Regions from separate parts of the Homo sapiens genome. Here region 2 is linked to region 1. Evidence: fine-mapped expression QTL. A gene starts in region 1. The other region holds a variant in brackets. All regions are shown on one strand. Distances are from middle to middle.

Evidence for each region. PIP is the estimated chance that this variant, and not a neighbour inherited with it, causes the effect.
Region 2: its variant is fine-mapped to the expression of SPNS2 in whole blood (TOPMed, PIP above 0.99).

The regions. Positions count from the first base shown.
Region 1 is chr17:4,492,808-4,503,091 of GRCh38, forward strand. SPNS2 (SPNS lysolipid transporter 2, sphingosine-1-phosphate) reads left to right here and starts at 6,074. Exons shown (of 13, transcript NM_001124758.3): 1 at 6,074-6,610. The coding sequence starts at 6,241. SPNS2-AS1 (SPNS2 antisense RNA 1) reads right to left here and starts at 5,928. Exons shown (of 3, transcript XR_001752763.2): 1 at 5,344-5,928; 2 at 4,735-4,908. RefSeq lists silencers at 5,867-5,926, 5,937-6,086, 6,147-6,196 and enhancers at 6,238-6,873, 6,874-7,508, 9,780-10,284.
Region 2 is chr17:4,524,523-4,534,806 of GRCh38, forward strand. It overlaps SPNS2 (SPNS lysolipid transporter 2, sphingosine-1-phosphate), which reads left to right. Exons shown (of 13, transcript NM_001124758.3): 3 at 535-671; 4 at 6,110-6,261; 5 at 6,531-6,597; 6 at 8,020-8,162; 7 at 8,455-8,607; 8 at 8,721-8,910; 9 at 9,266-9,331. Among named protein-coding and RNA genes, the nearest start is that of MYBBP1A, 26 kb to the right of the region's middle. The variant C/G (reference allele first, on the strand shown) is at 6,006.

The DNA of each region.
Region 1 (10,284 bases):
AGCAAAGATAGGCTCGGGCTGGGGGAGGGAACGGGGGCCCCAACCAGTCCTCAGCTTGGCAACAGCAAGAGCAGAGAGGAGGTGCCTTCTCCCCACCGTGGGTGGTGACCTGCGGGGAAGGCTAATCAAAGGGTGGAGGCAAACAGCAGGTGGAAGCTAATGGAGGGTGGAGTCAATCAGGAAGAAAATGCCTTTTCCAGAGGAACCAGGAGACGAATCTGGTTTCTGAGTCATTCAGAGCAACAGACGCGTGATGCAAATCAATGTACATTTCCTGAGCACCTGCTAAATGTCATTTACTCATTCAATCAACAAACATTCTTTGAGCACCTCCTCTGTACTGGCTCGTGGAGATGAATCAGAAAGGGTACGGGCCCTCGAGGCTCACGGTCTGTTGGTGAAGGGCGGGGGACAGATTCTTGCACAGACAAAAATCAGCACAGTGTTGGTGTGATGGAAGGATACACAGGTTACTCAATAGCCCAGAGGAGGAAATGGTTGTTCAGGTGGGCCGGGGAAGGCTTCCCGGAGGAAGCTGTTTCTGTGCTGGGTTCCTGAAGGACAAGTGGGAAGAGTGAATAGGCCACACAGGCAGAGCATGCCTCAGTCAGGGTCGGGGTCAGGGGTTGCACGCGGGATGCTCTCCATGGTCCTGAATCATCGCTGTGCTAGTGGGACAAGGGCTTTTTTGTTGATAGGAGGACAGGGGCTATAGAATAGTGCCCCAATTCTTGCCCCTCCCCCAGGCTCCAGGAAGTATTATAACTGTGAGTTCAAGAAGCTCCATGTTCAGTGTGGCAGAGGGTAATTTTGAGAGATGGGCCGTAGGATCTGAGGCTGGAGATTGTCATGGGTTGTGAAAAGTTGTGAAGGCTCTTGGAGATCATTAAGGAATGTAGTTTTTTTTTTTGAAACAGAGTCTCGCTCTGTCACCCAGACTGGAGTGCAGTGGCGCGATCTCGGCTCACTGCAAGCTCCGCCTCCTGGGTTCACGCCATTCTCCTGCCTCAGCCTCCCGAGTAGATGGGACAACAGGCGCCCACCACCACGCCCAGCTAATTTTTTGTATTTTTTAGTAGAGACAGGGTTTCACCATGTTAGCCAGGATTGTCTCGATCTCCTGACCTCGTGATCCGCCCGCCTCGGCTTCCCGAAGTGCTGGGATTACAGGCGTGAGTCACTGCGCCCGGCCAGGAACGTAGACATTTTTAACCCTATAGCCAGTGAAGAGCCTTAGAAAGGTTTTGCTCAAGGTAGTGATGAGGTCCTTTGTGGGATTCAGAAAGTGACTGATAAGCAATATGGAGAAACGACTGGAGGGCCGGCCGAGCACAGTGGCTCACGCCTGTAATCCCAGCACTTTGGGATGCCAAGGTGGGTGGATCACTTGAGGCCAGGAGTTCGAGACCAGCCTGGCCAACATGATGAAACCCCGTCTCTACTAAAAATAAAAAAAATTAGCCGGGCATGGTGGTGCACACCTGTAATCCCAGCTACTCAGGAGGCTGAGGCAGGAGAATTGCTTGAACCCAGGAGGCAGAGGTTGCAGTGAGCCGAGATTGTGCCATTGCACTCCAGCCTGGGTGACAGAGCAGGACTCCGTCTCAAAAAACAAACAAACAAAACTGGAGGGGGATGTGGGAACAGGTAATGTTGAGCTTTACAAGGGTCCAGGTAAGACACAGAGAGGCCTGAGCTAAGCCAGTGGGCAATGTGGACGTGGGGAGATGTTCAAGAGAGGAAATTGAAAGCCCTTAGATGTGGCTGTTGAGGAGAAGGAGCCCCACATGGCTCCCAGGCTTTCTGCTTGGCGACAGTGTGGATGATGGTGTTTTTGACAAAAGATAAATGATACCAGAGTGGGAGCAGGTTGGGGGAAGGATGACAAGTTCAGTTTCAAATGTGCTGAGCCTAAGGTACATGTGGGATATCTGGTGGGGGGCACGTGTAGGAGGCTGCATATGGATCTCGTGTTTGGAGATGAGGCCCTGTCTAGAGATGGAGGTTGGGGTGTCATAGTCACATGGATGATCATTGAAAGTTGAGGCCACAGCTGCACATGGTGCTCACCCCTCTAACCCCAGCATTTTGGTAGGCTGAGGTGGGAGGATCACTTGAGCCCTAGAGTTTGAGACCAGCCTGGTCAACATAGTGAGACCTTTTTCCTAAAAAAAAAATTGCTGGGTGTGGTGGTGCACGCTTATAGTCCCAGCCTTTTGGGAAGCTGAGGTGTGGATCCTCAGGAGAGGAAGACTCTTCTTTTTTATATATATATTTTTATTTTTTATTATTATTTTTTTCTTCCTGAGATGGAGTCTTGCTCTGTCACCCAGGCTGGAATATGAAAGTCTCCGTTTCTCTGTCTTTGCTCCTGTCTGTCTTGGCTCTCTTTTTTTTGTTTTTTGTTTTTTTGTTTTTTGTTGTTGTTGTTGTTTTGAGACAGAGTCTCACTCTGTCACCCACGCTGGAGTGCAGTGGTGTGATCTCGGCTCACTACAACCTCCGCCTCCTGGGTTCAAGCAATTCTCCTCCCAAGTAGCTGGGATGACAGGCGCATGCCACCACACCCAGCTAATTTTTGTGTTTTCACTAGAGATGGGGTTTCTCCATGTTGGCTAGGCTGATCTTGAATTCCTGACCTCAAGTGATCTGCTCGCCTTGGCCTCCCAAAGTGCTGGGATTACAGGCATGAGCCACCGCGCCCAGCATCAGGAAGCCCCTTCTTAAGGAGGATCCCTTGAGCCCAAGAGGTCAAAGTTATGATGAGCTATGATTGCACCACTGCGTTCCAGCCTGGGTGACAGAGAGAGACCCTGCCTCTTAAAAATTTTTTCAAAAAAAGTAAATTTCAGGCCTAGGTGAGAGGCTGCCAAGGGGGAAGGGAAACAACCGAGGCCTGAGCCCTGGAGACACTCCCATGTGGGAGGATGGGCAGAGGGCAGATGGGCTGAGCTCCCAATTACCAGCCAAGGAGGAGCAAGTGCATTCTAGGCCAGTGTTTCTCAGAGTGTGTCCTGCAGAGCTCTCGTCTTGCAAGACATTCTGTGGTCACACACACCTGGGAACGTGGCATCCTATATCTCCCTCTGGGAGACTCAGAGCATGTATTCTCATAGTAAAGGCTCTCAAAAGTCCCTAAGGAAACCTACTTTTCTGTGTTTATCCCACTACTTCCCAAGTATGACTGCTCTTTGAATAATGGCCATTAATGTTCTGTGCCCCATTTTTTTCTTTTTTGTGTGTGTTCTTTTCTTTTTTTCCCCCCACTTTTGTTTTTTGTTTTTGTTTTTGTTTTTGAGATGGAGTCTCACTCTGTCACCGAGGCTGGAGTGCAGTGGCATGATCTTGGCTCACTGCAACCTCTGCCTCCCAAGTTCAAGCAATTCTCCTGCCTCAGCCTCCTAAGTAGCTGGGATTACAGGCGCGCCCCACCACGCCTGGCTAATTTTTGTATTTTTAGTAGAGACCGGGTTTCACCATGTTGGCCAGGCTGGTCTCGAACTCCTGACCTCAGGTGATCCACCCACCTCGGCCTCCCAAAGTGCTGGCATTACAGGTATGAGCCACCACGCCGGCCCCCATTTGTTTTGAAGCTGTGATCTAGACCTAATGAATGAATATCAGAAGGTCCTTTAGCCACGGAGTTCAGCCTCCTGTTATACTGATGAAGAAACAGAATCCCGCCCAGTCTGAGGGCAGCGTGCAGTGGAGGAAGTGCTGGATTAGAGGGTAAACACACCTGGGTTTAGTCCATGCACTGTCATTTACCAGGTGTTCGACCTTGGGCAAATTACTTCTTTTCCCTGGGCCTCAGTTTCTTCATTGGCGAGATGGAGGAAAGAACCCTACCAGTCCTCTGTCTGACAGCCCCAGGTTACTGCCAGAGCTTCTCAGAAGGCTGTAGGGATTTGTCCTGGGCTGCACAACCAGAAAGGGCTTCTTGTCCTCCCTGTCCCTCTGCCCTTGGTGGCCCCTTATCCCACACAAGGACTTATTCTAGAGGCTGCCTTTGAGTTGAAACCCCAGTGAAACACAGTGGGAAGGGCTGGCTTGCTTGGTGGCAGCTCAGAGGTCCCCCAGGTTTGAAAGGCTCATGCCACCCTCTTCCCCTGCTCTGGGACCTTCCCAGTGGTGAAAAGGGAAGGCAGCAGAAAGAGAATGCTCCCCTTTCTGTCAAGGCCGAAAGTGTCCACCTGGACAGGACTGTGGCCAAAGGGATGAGGAGTTTTGGGGCACGGGAAGGGGACCCTGGGCTTGGGTCTAGAGTTGTGGTTGTGCCTCCTTCACCACTAGACACAGTTCCACAGCTGGGCAGCCTCCCACAGCTGGACTCTGTCCACCTGCTGGCACCATCACACACTTACGAGATCATTGCTGGGGCCGGGTTCTAGCCCCACGGAGCTCCTAGCTCTCTGTCCTTGTTTGTTAATCACCCGTCATGCCAGGCCACCATGGGGAACTCCCCCCATCCGCCTTTGCAGGCCTGAGCTCAGCGAGCTGGAAAGAGGCAGCAGGCAACTTTGAGAATGAAATCTGTTTTCCTAACCCTCCCGTCACAGTCATTCATACCCAGCACGCTGAAGCATATTTTTAGTCACTTTGCAGAATTTAAAATACACCTCGAAGGCGCCAAGAAACACCAGCTTGGGGATTAACTCTGCTCACAAGAGACAGTGGAGGGGGGCGGGGGGGGTGCCTCGTGCTGTGTCACCCGTTGGCTATGCCATGACTCACTGTGGCCGAAAGCTTCACCAGATGCACCTGCCTGTGGACGTGGGGTCCGGAAAAGCCTCTAGCGGGGAGTGAGCTCCAGCCCTCGGGGATGATGCCAGAGCCTGGGGCAGCTCCAGCCCTGCCACAGCTTCACTGCCTGTTCGTAATGGGTCACGTCCGTGCCCTGGGACTTGTCTGTGAAACACAGGGAATGATTAACTGGTTTCCGAGGGTTTGTCCAGTTCTAACATTCTGTCCTCTGCACTTTATACAGGATTTTAATTTCGATTTTAATTCCCCAAACAGGTGAATGGGGGAGGGAAGGGGGAGATCGTCACAGAGCCACAGCACCTCTAAGGAGGGGTGAAACCGTGATGGGATGTCAGGAACACAGAAGCACCCCAACCACTCTCCATAGGAGGCAGACCCCCGCCCCGTCCCACCAAGGGGAGGTGACCACCCGTGGATTTCCAGACTGAATCCCATCCTGCCATCTGCCCCCAGATACAGAAATGGAGGCCCAGAGAGTGGGTGTCATGTTCAGGATCATGCCACACACCAGGGCAGAGCTGAGCTAGGACCCAGCCTCCTGTCTGCCACTGGGGGCTTTGTACCCTCTCTAGCACATACCTGGAAGTCTGAAGCTTGGAGATGTGGTCCCTCAGGAGGGAAAGCCCCTTCTGAATATCCTGTTTCTGTTGGGCCCCAATCACAGCCCTTGCTCTCCCCGCCAGGGGCTGCGGGCCACTCTGTGGGGCAAGGGTAGGGTCCGGGTGCCCACACAGGAATGGGCCCGGGGTAGGTTGGGGGCTGGATCTGGGTTGCCCTGGGGAGGTGGGAGACACAGCCCACCATGACTGGTGGAGGTCTAGGTTCTGGGCCCTCCCTGAACTGGTTAAATCCGGGCGTGTGAGTATCGGAGGAGCCACCGGCTCTCCAACTGGCGCCCCTGACTTTAGCCATCTGAGACTCCTCTCTCCAGTTCTCCCAGATACGCTAGGCTCAAGCCCTCAGCCCGGCTCCCAGAGCCTCCGCCGGGAGTCCACGCCCGAGGCAGGGGTTGGGTGAAGGGTACTGAGTAGGTGCTGGGAGCCCCGTCACCAGCACCCTGCTCCCAGCTCCGTAGCCAGAGCAAACCCTCTCCCGCTCCCCGCGGGCGTTCGCGGCCGGTCGGCCCCGGCGTGACTGCGCCCCCATTGGCAGGAGGGGCTCTGCCGCCCGGGCCCCCAGTCCCCGGGCCCCCCACCCCCAGGGCAGCACGTGCGGGGCGGGGCTGTGGCCCGAGCCCGGAGCTGATTGGGCGCGGGCCTGGTGGGCGGGGCCGGGCCGCAGCTGTCAGAGCCGCGGCGGCGAACGAGGCGCAGCGAGCTGAGCGGTGGCAGCGCCGCAGCCGGGGCCGGAGCGCAGGAGCCGACGGGGCCCGACCAGGATGGTGCAGTGGCGGCTCCGCGGCGCACGCACGCGCTGAGCGGGCCCAGCCTGGGCCCCGCGCCCCCCGCGCCCCCCGCCGCCCCGATCCGGGCCGGCATGATGTGCCTGGAATGCGCCTCGGCGGCGGCGGGCGGCGCGGAGGAGGAGGAGGCGGACGCGGAGCGGCGGCGCCGGCGCCGGGGGGCGCAGCGAGGGGCTGGCGGTAGCGGTTGCTGCGGGGCGCGGGGCGCGGGCGGCGCTGGAGTCTCGGCCGCGGGCGATGAGGTGCAGACGCTGTCGGGCAGCGTAAGGCGGGCCCCGACCGGACCCCCCGGCACCCCCGGCACCCCCGGCTGCGCAGCTACTGCAAAGGGCCCCGGCGCTCAGCAGCCCAAACCGGCCAGCTTGGGCCGCGGGCGGGGGGCAGCCGCCGCCATCCTCAGCTTGGGCAACGTGCTCAACTACCTGGACAGGTACACCGTGGCAGGTGAGCGAGTGCCCCACCCAGCCCGAGGACCAAGACCCCACCCCATCCCACCACCCGCCTCGAGGGAGGTACCCCAGAGAGCTTTTGGTCTCAGGCCTGCTATCTCCAGGCCCTACGTGAGGTCCCTACGGACCCTCTGCTCAGGCACAACTGGGCAAGGGATGCCTCCGTGCACCACGGGTACAATCCAGCTCCCCGCTCATACACACCCGGGGCCAAGGGATAGAGGAGTCCCCACCCCTGGAGCAGCCCGCGCGTCCTCTCCAGCCCTTGACGGCCCATCCGTTGTCCTCCTCTCCAAGAGTCTCCTCTGCGTCTCTCTGTCTCCTTGTCTCTGCGCCCCCTCCGACCCCAGCTGCCGGTTCCCGGGCCTCCTTCCCTTCCCTTCCCCCAGCCCAGGTCGTCTGTCCGTCCATGGCCCGTCAGTTCCTTCCTTTCTCCGCCGCCTCCACCCCCCTGCGTGCGTGCGGCGAGTGCGCGCGCCCCTTGCGGGTGTGCGCTAGGGAGACCGGGTGTGTGTGCGCGTGGCGGCGCGGTTGTGTGTGAGCGCGTGGCTGACAAAGGCTCCGGGCTGCGGGGAGCGGAGGGAGGGGCGGGGCGGGTCCGCGGCGCCTGGGGACCCAGGCTGCGGTTTGCAGCTGGCCCTGTACAGAGGCCTGGAGACGCCTCCCCCTGCTCTATGGTGCTTGGGGTGTAGGGTAGGGCGCAGGCCTCTGGAGCTAGAGACGTGGAGCCTCATCCTCAGGGAGCATCTCTGGGAATCAGCCTTGGGGACGGGATTGGGATCGATAGAACAACTGGGTTCTAGCCCCAGCTTTGCTCCTAATGTGCTTGGTGTGTGACCTTGGGCCAGTCTCAGCGTGTGTTTAGGTCTGTTTGCCCGTTTGTGAGTTGATTGATCATTGGGCCTTTGGGGGACGCACGTGGTTCTGGAATTGCCTTCTGCTGGCTCCCTTCCCCAGCAATTAGGGGTGGGTCTAGGGGTAAGAATTTGCCCTAGACTGAGCTGCTACTGGTTGGGAATGGTGGAGCTTTGAGAGGGAAGGACTTTGGCCAGACTGGCATAGGAAGGGGCTCCCTGCAGGAGGAGAGCAGTACTGTGTGCCTGGCATGCTGGCCCAGAACCTGCGTAACTATAGCTTAGTAAAATCTGGAGCTATCAAACACACACACAACAGAGAGAGAGAGGAGATAGGAGAGAGGGAAGGATTTATTTTTGGACAGACTCTAAAGAGAACTTTGCGGCAATTGAGGGAAGAGAGCCCGGGCATAAACCACATGCCACCTGGTGCCTTCTCTGGGCCTCAGTCTCCCCGTCTGTTGAATGGAGTTTTGTGTCAAATGGAAGGGAAGAATTCTGATGGGAGGGCAGAGGCTTCCCCCTCCCCCCATTCCTGCTTTCAACCCCCCTTGGCTCTCTGTCCTTCCGCTGGAGGAAATTGGAAGTGGGTACCAGTGGCATCAGTTTCTGGGTCGAGCTATCCCAAAGAGAAACTTACTTTGGTCTAGAGAGCAGGAATATTGAGCACCTCCCAAAAACGCCAGCCGCTGTCACGCATGCACCATGCTGCCGGGGACCTGGGAGCATAAGCGCCATCCTTTGGGGGAGAAATCAGAGAATACCTGGGACCTGTAGTCAGTTCACAAAAGGCTTCTGTACACAGATAGGGGGACCAATGTCCCTGTACAGCCCCCGTTCAAGATGGCCAGGAAAGTGACTGGCAAAGCTGGTGTTAGCTCTAACAGTAAGGCTCTGCCTGGGAGGAGGTCTTCCCACCCTTTCTCAGCTGAAGAAGGAATGGTACTACTTCTGGCACTGTAGCGCTCTCCAACTTGTTTTTTTTCTGGCCCCAGACCACCCCCTTTGACGTTCTTAGGGGAACTGCCTCTGCCAGGGGCAGAGCCAGAGAGGGTGGGATCAGGGAGGGCTGGCACTTATCTGCTCCCACTTCTACTCAGGTCTCTGAGTCAGATTGTCAGCATGGGGGAATGAGATAGGAAATTTGTGGTGAATTGGTAAAGGGAGGTGGGGAGTGGTGGCTAAGAGGGGCGTGGGGCAGTTAGGGAGGAAGGCCCGGAAAGTCCTGTGCAAACACTTGCCTGGGCTGTGCCTCCCTCCCTCTCCTGGCCTGGAGTGGGAGCTCACACACCACCCCACCCCCAACACACAACAGACACAGGTTTCCTCTCCGGATAAGCCTGGTTGCCCCTCTCTCTATGGTAGATTTCCCCATCTCCACTTCCCCAAGTTCAGTTTTTAGGAATATTTATTATCTCTATGGTAACTACTATGGCTTGATGTGCTAGGGCCAGGGGAGTGCTCATCCCAGGCCTGAGTGCACCTGTTGCTGGCTGGCCCAGCTGGGACAGAGATGGGGATGCAGAGACTCAATTGCTCAGTCTTTGATGCTTGCACCTACCTGGCCCCAGCTCCCCACCAAAGATGGAAGGGAGGTCCCACTCTCCTTCTTTAACTCTGTCCTTTAAATCTGTTTTTTCATAGTGTAGACCAGCTTTGTCCAAAAGAAATATAATGTAAGCCACATATTCCTGTCAAATTTTCTGGTAGCCGGACTAAAATAGTACAAGAAATAGGTGTGATTAATTCATAATATATTTTATTTAACTCAATATATCCAACATATTTCAACATGTAATCAATATAAAAGTTGTTAGGGCTGGGCGCGGTGGCTCACGCCTGTAAACCCAGCACTTTGGGAGGTCGAGGCGGGTGGATCACCTGAGGTCGGAAGTTCGAGACCAGCCTGGTCAACATGGTGAAACCCCCCATCTCTACTAAAGTAAATACAAAAATTAGCTAGCATGGTGGTGCACACCTGTAGTCCCAGCTACTCGGGAGGCTGAGGCAGGATAATCGCTTGAACCCAGGAGGTGGAGGTTGCATTGAGCCAAGATCGCGCCACTGTACTCCAGCCTGGGTGACAGAGTGAGGCTCTGTCTCAAAAAAAAAAAAAAAATTATACACACACACACATATGTATGTTGTTAATGGGATATTTTGCCTCCCTTTTCATACTAAGTCTTTGAAACCCAGTATGTGTATTTTCCATTCACAGCACATGTCAATATCACGGTGGCCAGGGGCCACTAGAGTGGACAGTGCAGGTCTAGAGTCTTTGTTGCCAGAGTTCGAGCCAAGGCTCTTCAGCTTCCCAGCCGTGTGACCTTGAAGACATCACCTGAGCCTTCTGTGTGATCATTCCCCTCCCGCCTGCCTCCCGGGTTGCGTGGGATAAATGAGACTGTATCTCGAGCACCTGGGACGGGGCCAGATTCCTAGGAGGGCTTCACGAGTGCCAGCTGCCTTCTCCTTCATGCCTCTGCTCAAGCTGGCCACGATGCCTTTCCTGGGATTTTTGTTGTTGTTGTTCTGTTTTTTGTTCTGTTTATGACAGTCCTTTCAGGACACCTTTGCAAGCCCCTCCCTTCTCCACAGGGCTGGTCTCCATCCTGGGAACTCTAGTAGCTTCTGCCCCAGCGCCACCCGGTGAACCTGCTAATTACGGCCTCTCCTCCGCCCCATGAGAACCCCCTGAGGGCAGCAGGCCTCAGAGCGGGTGAGGAGGGCCAGGCTCCTGTGCTTGCTCTTCTTACCGAGCGTTGCTTCAATTGGATGAAATTGAGGTAGCCCAGAAACCTCTTCTAAATCCTTC
Region 2 (10,284 bases), 32 kb after region 1:
AAAATACAAGAATTAGCCAAGTGTGGTGGCGCATGCCTGTAATGCCAGCTACTCAGGAGGCTGAGGCATAAGAATTGCTTGAACCCAGGAGATGGAGGTTGCAGTGAGCCGAGAGTGTGCCACGGCACTCCAGCCTGGGTGACAGAGCGAGACCCTGTCTCAAAACAATAAAAATAAAATTTTAAAAAGATATGTGAGATATGACATGGTGAGCCCCTAGCATAGTGTGTGGCATGTAGAAAGTGTTCAATAAATAGATCTTGACTCTTTTAAAAAGTACCCAAAGGGCTCACCCAAACCTGGACAAACTGGGCGAACTGGACATACATGGGAGAGGATGGCGTCATGGACCTGCCTGACCTCGTAAGGCCTTTCCCACCTTCCTGGGGTGCAGGTCGGGCCGAGGTTTCCTCTCTGGGCTGCTTCCTTGGTCCCTTTGCTCCACAGACTCTTGGCCCCAAGCCGGAGTGAAATGGGCCGGGAGGCCGGGGCGCAGGGACCTGGGCCCCCCCTCAAGCTCTCCTCTCCCTGCAGTGTTCATCTGTAGCTTCATGGTGGCTGCCCCCATCTTCGGCTACCTGGGCGACCGCTTCAACAGGAAGGTGATTCTCAGCTGCGGCATTTTCTTCTGGTCGGCCGTCACCTTCTCCAGCTCCTTCATTCCCCAGCAGGTGAGGCCCGGCTCGGCTTCTCCCCGACCCCTGTGTCCTGGTCCCTCCAGCGAGTGGCTAGTCTTATTGGCCTGTTGAAGAATCCAGCCCAGGGCTTCCAGCTCCTTTGCTTGAACCCCACTGTCTTCCCAGTGCAGAAGGACAGGTGGTCTTCGGGTATTTTTATAAACCAGCCCTGCGGCTGGGGCCTTCCCCACGCTGGCCTGACCTGAGAGCCTTCCAGCCCATGTGGCCTCCTGACTCTTTCTGAGCATCCCTCTGATTTGGGATGGATGCAAAGAACAAGTCTGGCCTAGGAGTGAGGGCCTTGAGTCCTAGCCCTGGCTCTGCCATTATCTGGCTGTGTGACCCTGGGGGAGTCACTACCCCTCTCTGGTTCTTGCTCAGTTTGTGCTTGGTCTGATGACCAGCTGACTTCTTAGATCGACATCCCAGAGAAGCAAATATCAATTCAACACAAACAAGAGTCTTCTCATTTAGCTCCCACAGGCCTGGGCTTGAATATCCCAACTTTGTTTCCTACTCAGCTTTGTGACCTGGAGGAACTTAATGTCTCTGAGCCTCAGTTTCCTCATCTTTAAAATGGGGATAATACTTCCCAACTCGAAGGTTTCCCTTGAGAAGTAGCTGAGCTGTGAAGGTCCAGACCCTGGAACACGGCGAGTGCTCAGCCAGTCATTGTTTCTGTTCCTCCTTCCAAAGATGAGACTGTTGCCTTGTGAGGTAGTGAGTTCCCCATCTCGAGGCGTATTCAAGCAGAGAGTGGCAATCACATGCCGGCTGCTATAGAGAAAGATGAAGGAAGAAGGGGAGAGCATGATCTGTCTTCAAGGAGCTTTCAGGATAGCCCTGTCCTTGGGAGCACCCAGGCTTCGGGGTAGGAAGATTTGACAGGAACTCCTGTGTTCAGAGCCTTCAAGAGGTGTAGAAAAAGTGCTGAGAGTCCTCACTAAAGAGACAACAGTCTCTTGAAATCCGTGGGGTCAGGGAGGGCTTCCTGGAGGAGGTGGCGTTTGCGCTGGGCAGGCAGGACTGTGAGATCAGGCCTTTTGGTGAAGGTAGCATGGGCAGAGGGAGCCAACCCACTGATGCAGAAATGGTGGAGTGTGTTGAAAGATTGAGGATTGGGCCAGGTGTGATGGTTCATGCCTGTAATCCCAGCACTTTGGAAGGCCAAGGCGGGTGGATCCCCTGAGGTCAGGAGTTCGAGACCAGCCTGGCCAACATGGAGAAACCCCATCTCTACTAAAAATACAAAAATTAGCCAGGCATGGTGGTGCATGCCTATAATCCCAGCTACTTGGGAGGCTGAGGCAGGAGAATCGCTTGAACCTCGAAGGCAGAGGTTGCAGTGAGCAGAGATCGCACCACTGCACTCCAGCCTGGGTGACAAGAGCAAAACTCCATCTCAAAAAAAAAAAAAGAAAAAGAAAGAAAGATTGAGGATTGCATTTTCACTGGAAAGAAAGCAGGGACTGGGTCATGGAGAACCTTGAATGCCAGGCTAGAGGGCCTGGGCTTCCTTCTGTGGCAGTGCTGAGCTCTGGAAAAGTTTGAAGAACAATGGCGGGGTCAGATTTGGGTTGATGGTGGGGACATTGGAGGGAGGGCAGAGAGAATCAGCAGGTTTGCCAAGGACATCCTTGCTTCATGGGGCAGCTTCGCAGAGGAGGGTCAGGTCAGGTAAAGCTCCAGGCCCAGGATGGCAAGCAGAGCCTGGTGGCCACAGTCAAAAATAAGGACTGGACCAGAGGCCTCTAGGGCCCCTCAGGACCTTGTCTTGCCCCTGGCCAGGCCCCTGGTCACCAACCTCTGAGGCTGCTCCTGGGACTGACCAGTAAGTCTAGGACCACCATGCCAGGTCCGGGTCCATCTCTGGGTGTGTGGAAGGAGACAGAAGATAAGCAAAGGCAGAGAGAGAAACAGGTCACCTCCAGTGAATCCATAAATGCACTGAAATCACAATTTGCATCCCATAGGGGTTTCTGGTAGACTTTGGCAATGTGATTCTGAAGTTAATTTGGCAGAGAAAATGCCCAGGAACAGCCAAGAACATTGTGAAAAAATAACAGTGAAAGGGGATTTGCCTCTCAGTTATCAAAATACAGTGATTGTAACTAAAACAGCAGAGGGATGGACTAAGATCAATGAGCCAGAGTCCTCATTTCTGTGGGGATTTAGTGTAGGATGAAAGTTGCATCTCAAATGAGTGGTTTGGGAAGAACTATCTATCCATCTGGATTGAAAGAAAAGTTTGGCCTGTGTTTCAAACCATCTTGCAGAATAAAGTCCCGATAGGGGAAAGTAAAGCAAAAAGCAAGCTCTTAAAATCTAGAACTATAAATCAACAAGAAAAAGACAAATAACTCAGTAGAAAAATGGGCACGGGATAGCTACAGACAGTTTCAGGAGAAGACACCCAAACGGCCAATACGTGTAGGAAGAGACAGGGCTCAGCTTCTCTAGTAACCAGGGAAATGCAAATTAGAACAACAATGAGATCCCATTTCACACCCGTCAGATTGGCAACAATTAAAAAGGCTGACAATACCAAGTGTGATCAAAGCTGTGGGGAATCGGGGACTCCAGCCCTGCTGGTGGGAGTGTAAATTGGTAGAGGCTCTTTGGAGAGCGAAACGGCAGGATATTGTAAAACTCTGTTTATCTCCCGTGGCCCAGCCTTCTACTTGGGGTATACACCCAAGAGAGAAACTCCAGCTTGTAGACACATGCATGTAAGAAGCACTGGAATAGCCAAAAAAAAAAAAAAAGGAAGCAATCTAAATGACCATCACTGGGTGTGCACAGATTAATGGTGTGTATGTATGACTCTTTTCTTTTTTTTTTAGACGGAGTTTCGCTCTTGCTGCCCAGGCTGGAGTGCAATGGCACAATCTGGGTTCACTGCAACCTCCGCCTCCCGGGTTCAAGCGATTCTCCTGCCTCAGCCTCCCAAGTAGCTGGGATTACAGGCACGCGCCACCACACCCAGCTAATTTTTGTATTTTTAATAGAGATGGGGTTTCACCATGTTGACAAGGCTAGTCTGGAACTCCTGACCTCAGGTGATCCTACCGCCTCAGCCTCCTAAAGTGCTGGAATTATAGGTGTGAGCCACTGTGCCGGGCCCTGTGAGACTCAACAGGAAAAGAATGAACTAGATCTTAATTAACCAGCATAAATGGGTTTCAAAAAGATAAGAATGAGGGAGCAAAAGCAAGTTACAGGATAAGATGCGTGGAGGGTTTCCTTTCATGTCCATTTTATTTTTAAATATTGTTTATTTTGAGACAGAGTTTCGCTCTTTCACCCAGGCTGGAGTGCAGTGGCACAATCTCGGCTCACTGCAACCTCTGCCACCCCCTCCTCCACCACCAGGTTCAAGCGATTCTCCTGCCTCAGCCTCCCGCGTAGCTGCGATTATAGGCGACTGCCACCATGCCCAGCTAATTTTTGTATTTTTAGTAGAGAAGGGTTTTCACCGTGTTGGCCAGGCTGGTCTCGAACTCCTGACCTCAGGTGATCCACTTGCCTTGACTTCCCAAAGTGCTGGGATTACAGATGTGAGCCCACCATGCCCAGCCTTAAATGTGTTTTTGAGACAGGGTCTCGCTCTGTCACCTAGGCTGATATGCAGTGGTGTGATCACAGCTCACTGCAGGCTTGACTTCCTGGGCTCAACTGATCCTCCTGTCTCAGTCTCCTAAGTAGCTAGGATGCATCATGATCCCGCTAATTTTTATCTTTTCTTTTTTTTTTTTGAAATGGAGTCTTGCTCTGTCACCCAGGCTGGAGTGCAGTGGCGCAATCTTGGCTCACTGCAACCTCCACCTCCCGAGTTCAAGCAACTCTCTGCCTCAGCCTCTCCAGTAGCTGGGATCACAGGCACCCGCCAACACACCCGGCTAATTTTTGTATTTTTAGTAGAGATGGGGCTTCACCATCTTGGCCAGGCTGGTCTTGAACTCCTGGCCTTGTGATCCACCCGACTCAGCCTCCCAAAGTGCTGGGATTACAGGCGTGAGCCACTGCGCCTGGCCCGATTTTTATCTTATTTTTAAATTTTTTTAGAGACGAGGTCTCACTATGTTACCCAGGCTGGTCTCGAACTCCTGGCCTCAAGCAATCCTCCTGCCTCAGCCTCCTAAAGTGCTGGGATTATAGGCACGAGCCCCCATGCCCAGCCTCATGTTTGTTCTTTAAAAGCACACAGGGGGCCGGATGTGGTGGCCCACGCCTGTAATCCCAGCACTTTGGGAGGCTGAGGCAGGCAGATCAAGAGCAGCCTGGCCAACATGGCAAAACCCCGTCTCTACAAAAATTCAAAAATTAGCTGGGTGTGGTGTCGGGTGCCTATAATCCCACCTCCTCAGGAGGCTGAGGCAGGAGAATCGCTTGAACCCGGGGGGCAGAGGTTGCAGTGAGTGAGATCGCGCCACTGCACTCCAGCCTGAGTGACAGAGGAAGACTCCATCTGAAAAAAGAAGAAAAAAAAAGAAATCAATGCAAAAGAGACAAATGACCCACCAGAAAAACAGGCCAAGGCTGTAGGCAGGTGATTCCCAGGAAGAGAAACAGAGGCGAGGAGCTAAGGGCAAATGGGGAGATGGAAAAAGAGAGACAAGCATGAAGGGGTCAGAGATGGGCCAACCCAGGCAGCACCTGCAGGCACAGCAAGCCAGGAGCGAGGTGAGCAGATGGAGGGAAGTCAGGGAGACCCGGGGGAGGGCTGGACGCGGGCGATGCTGGCCAGATGGGTGGCCAGGGTGGGGCTGGGGAAAGATGACCAGGCTGGGTTCTCAGGCCCCGGGCAGCTGGGGGACGGAGGGAGCAGGTCCACATCAAAGGGGTCATGCTACCAGCAGCTGGCAGGGCCCCACCCTTCCCCACTCAGCTGGGCTTTGCCCTTTGGTGTGTGCAGGGGGAGGGGCTCTGGGTCCCCTGGGCTTCCCTGCCAACGCCCCACTCCCCACTCCCCACTTCACACTGGGCCCTCAGTGCTGCCAGGGTTGGCCTAGCCACCCGGCTTGGGAGAGACACACAGAGTGGAGGGTGGTGGCTTGAGGCTCCCGAAGTGAAGTCAGAACCAGGGAGGGGTCTCCCAGTTGGTGGAGTAGTGGAGACATAGGCTTGTGTCCCCAGTGCCTATGAGGACAGAGGGGGCCTACCTGGGCCATACCACTCTCAAGCTGGGATAGTCCCGTCCCATACCAGCACTGGGCCGGCCAGGCCCCGTCAGACCCACTATACAGAGGGGCAAACTGAGGCCCGGAGTGGCTGGGGGAGGTGGTCTTTACGGAGGTGCAGCCCACCAGCACCCTCACCCTTCTCTCC[C/G]CTGGCTCCTGGGCCCTGCAGGGGGAGGGAGCAAAGTGGGAACAAGGGATGACAGGCAGACGGTGGGTAGTCGGTCCCCCAGCATCCTCCACCCCTCCTCACAGTACTTCTGGCTGCTGGTCCTGTCCCGGGGGCTGGTGGGCATCGGGGAGGCCAGCTACTCCACCATCGCCCCCACTATCATTGGCGACCTCTTCACCAAGAACACGCGTACGCTCATGCTGTCCGTCTTCTACTTCGCCATCCCACTGGGCAGGTGAGAGCCGGAGATGCCAGGGTCTGGGTGAGGATCTGGGCAAGGTTCCCTTGGACTTCTGAGTTCTCCCACTCCCTGGGGTTCTAGCCCAGGCAGGCGTCCTCAGAGAGCTAAACATGTGGGCGGTCAGCCTTTGAGAATCTCCTGGACCTGCTCCCTGGCCAGCTGGCTGGGTGGGGAGGGTGGGCAGCCTGCCTTGCAGACCAGCGGGCACTCCCTGTCCCCAGCCCCTGTCTCTGCTCAGCCTGACGTGTGTCTCTTCTCTGCAGTGGCCTGGGCTACATTACTGGCTCCAGCGTGAAGCAGGCAGCCGGAGACTGGCACTGGGCATTGCGGGTAAGCCCTACGTCCCTTCCCATGAGGACACCCTCCGGTCCAGACCTCGCCCCAGGGTTGCCCAGAGATGTAATCCAGGCTAGGACCTAGGCCTCCAGGATTCCTCCCCTGGCTGCGTGGACTCTGAAATCCCTGCCCTTCCAGATTAGTCCAGATTGAGGTATCAGAGCGCTCAGATGTCCCGATTGAGGTGTCAGAGCCAGACACAGCCCCGCCGCCCTCGGGGCCCCCAGGCTGAGGGTTGGAATCTCCCACCCGGGAGTCCCAGGTTGAGAGAACCAAGGATTCTCCCACCACGTCAGGAAATTCCAGGTCCATGGCGGTGCTTCCTGCCTCCAGCCCTGGCGCTGTGCTAGGGTAAGGCTGGGACAAGACCTCTGTGTGGGGGCCCCAGAGTCTGGAGCCACTTCCGGTCTCGCTGGGTTTGGGGCAAGTTACCAAGGCCCCAGGACAGCGCAATCGGAGGAAACAGAGATCCCTCGTCTCTCGGAGGAGCGGAAGCTTAAGACAAAGTGTTTTTTCCTAAAAGCAGGAAGGAAGCGGCCTCCGTGGAATTTCTTAGTGGGGTGGGGGGATGGGGAGGCGAGAGGGAGGTGGCAGGCAGAGGAACTCCCCAACCCAGGGGCTCCCAGTCCCGGGGGCATGGGGGAGAGTGTTCTGCGGGGCTGGTGAGATGGAATCCAGGCTGCCAGGGTGTTACCCTCCCACCCGGAGAGAAGCCTGGGGCCTTGGAGGTTCTGTTCTGGAAAATGGGCTGGAAACGGGGAAGATCCAAAAGGGCTCGGGAGCCTCTGTGGGGCCTGCATCGGGCCCCCACCAAATGCCAGCCCACTTGATCTGTCAGTCCAGCGCTTCATACCCAAACAGCACCTTCCCAGGGCCCTGCGGCTGAGGAACCTACGTGGGGAACCTGCTCCAGGAATTTTCTCCTCCCTCAAAGTCATCATCCCATCTGGCTATCTACTTATTTTCCATCCGTCTGTCCATCCATCCACCATCCGTCCGTCTATCTATCCGTTCATCCATCTGTCCATCCGTCTGTCCATCTGTCCATCTATCCGTCCATCCCTCCATCTATCTCTGTCCATCTCTCCATCAACCTCTTTAGCCATCTCTTCTCTATCTATCCACCCACTGCTCCACTCACCCACCCCTCCTTCTTCCTTCAGTCTGTCTGGCTTCCCTGCACCTTCCCACCTCTGGTCCTGCCCCTGGTCTGGACAGGCCATCTCAAGCCTCCAGTCTCTTGACCGACCTCAGCCCCAGCTTTTCTCAGCAGCCCAATTAGGAAGGCTGGGCAGATACCTGCTCAGAGGAGAAGCCTATGGCCCAGAGAAGGCATGGGCTTGCCTGAGTCCCTCCTTCTGCAGCAGGGACGAGGCTCACTGGGCCCTGGTGTCCTAACTTCCTGCTCTCTGGCAGGTGTCCCCTGTCCTGGGCATGATCACAGGAACACTCATCCTCATTCTGGTCCCAGCCACTAAAAGGGGTCATGCCGACCAGCTCGGGGACCAGCTCAAGGCCCGGACCTCATGGCTCCGAGATATGAAGGCCCTGATTCGAAAGTGAGTACCGCGGGAAGGGGTCTGGTGGGAAGAGAGAGGGGTGCTGAGATGAGAGGGCCTGTCCCTGCAGGGCAGCCCACTAGCACCCTCAGCCAGACACCCCACCTCTGCTGTCTCAGTGCTGGGAGGGACATTTTGGCCCCAGAATCGATTATTCCTGCAGCCTGAACCCTCACCCCTGGAGCCTGTAAGACGAGGCATTTGGGGGCCTCCTGTTCCCCCAGTGCATGGGGCTGCCTAGGGGGGTGAAGGAGGTCCCTGAGCTCAGTGTCACTGCCTGGCCTCTCCCCAGCCGCAGCTACGTCTTCTCCTCCCTGGCCACGTCGGCTGTCTCCTTCGCCACGGGGGCCCTGGGCATGTGGATCCCGCTCTACCTGCACCGCGCCCAAGTTGTGCAGAAGACAGCAGAGACGTGCAACAGCCCGCCCTGTGGGGCCAAGGACAGGTGGGGCCCCGCGGGGTGGGCCCAGGGCTGGTGAGGGACCTCGGACAGGAGAGCCCCTCAGCCTTAGCCCTGAGCCGCCTCAACTCGTGCGCCACCATCCTCTGTCCCCACAGCCTCATCTTTGGGGCCATCACCTGCTTTACGGGATTTCTGGGCGTGGTCACGGGGGCAGGAGCCACGCGCTGGTGCCGCCTGAAGACCCAGCGGGCCGACCCACTGGTGTGTGCCGTGGGCATGCTGGGCTCTGCCATCTTCATCTGCCTGATCTTCGTGGCTGCCAAGAGCAGCATCGTAGGAGCCTATGTGAGTGCAGCGGGGGTCAAGGGTGCTGGGGGAGCTGGGCCTGGGCCGCGGGAGGGTCTGGAACAGGACATTCGGTCTGACTTACTGGATGTTCCCTTCCCTCGGGGAGGCTCCTATTCTCTGGCTGCCCCTGCTCATCCCCAGCCTGGCCACACACAGCCTGTCCAGGGCCTCTGGGTGCCTCAGGGCCGTGGGCATGGCTTGAAGTCTCTGGATAGCCCATGAATGGATGTGGGCCCGGGAGGGGTGTGAGGTTTTGTGGGCTCCCTGCCAGCAGCCAGTGTGTAGGGAACAGAGACTGTGGTTGCTGCGGATGGAGGGACCGCTGATGGTGGCTTTGCCTTCTCCCCGGCAGATCTGTATCTTCGTCGGGGAGACGCTGCTGTTTTCTAACTGGGCCATCACTGCAGACATCCTCATGGTGAGCCAGGCAGGCCGAGGTCACCTTGTGCTGCTGACCCAGGCCTCTTGACCTCACAGGGGTGCCTGGGGAGGGCGGGTGAAGGGGCGGGAGAGCTGGTAGGAAGGCAGGCCTGCCAGGAACGTGAACCCAGAGGCAGGGAGGGGATCAGAGAGTTTGGGGTCTGCCTCTGGCCAGGGCTGGAAAACAGGGTTGGGCAGGCAGACAGAGCACCATGTGGAGACTGAGGGGGAGGGGGCATCTCGAGGCTCAGGTTAGTGGCTGGGAGGCTGGCGGTGCCAGGCTGGCACTGAGGTGGCGCTGCCTGCCCGCCCTCCTCCCCCCGCTGGGTCTGAGCATCCATAGGCTCTGCCCTCTCTACTCAGCCTGGCTCCCAGGCGTGCCTGCGGCTGGGGCTGGGCGGACAGAGGCTGTCTTCACAGGGCCAACAATGGGCTCTAGCCCAGCCAGCTGGGGACAAAGGGCTGTCTTGAGCGGCCAGCAGGGGCTTGTGTCCCTGGGTGGGGATGGGAGCACCCTGGGAGGAGCCAGGAGTGGAGCTAGGAGTTCATGGCCCTCTGGGCGTGGCAGGGGTGAGTGTGACACTTGGTCCTGTGCCCAAGGGTCAGCCTGGCCAGGGTCAGGAGGGGACAGGAGAGAGTGTCTGGGAGGTGTCAGGGCAGGCTCTGGGGCAGAGAGGAAGGACTCGGGTGGATTCTCAGGGTGCCCGGGTTTGGGTGCCCCAGCATGGGACAGCCCGGGAGATGAGTGTGCCAGGCACTGCGGCCCCTGCACTTCGGGAAGCCTGCCTTACCCCACCCTGAGCCTCCGGGCGTATCCGCTTCCCCCTGGGGTGGCTCTGTGTCCTCCCGAGTCCATGGGCTGCGGTGGTGGTGGGGAGGCCTGGCGCAGTTCAGAGCCTCAGCACGGAGCCAGGCGGTGGCAGGGGTGCGCCAGGGTCACTGCACAGGCCC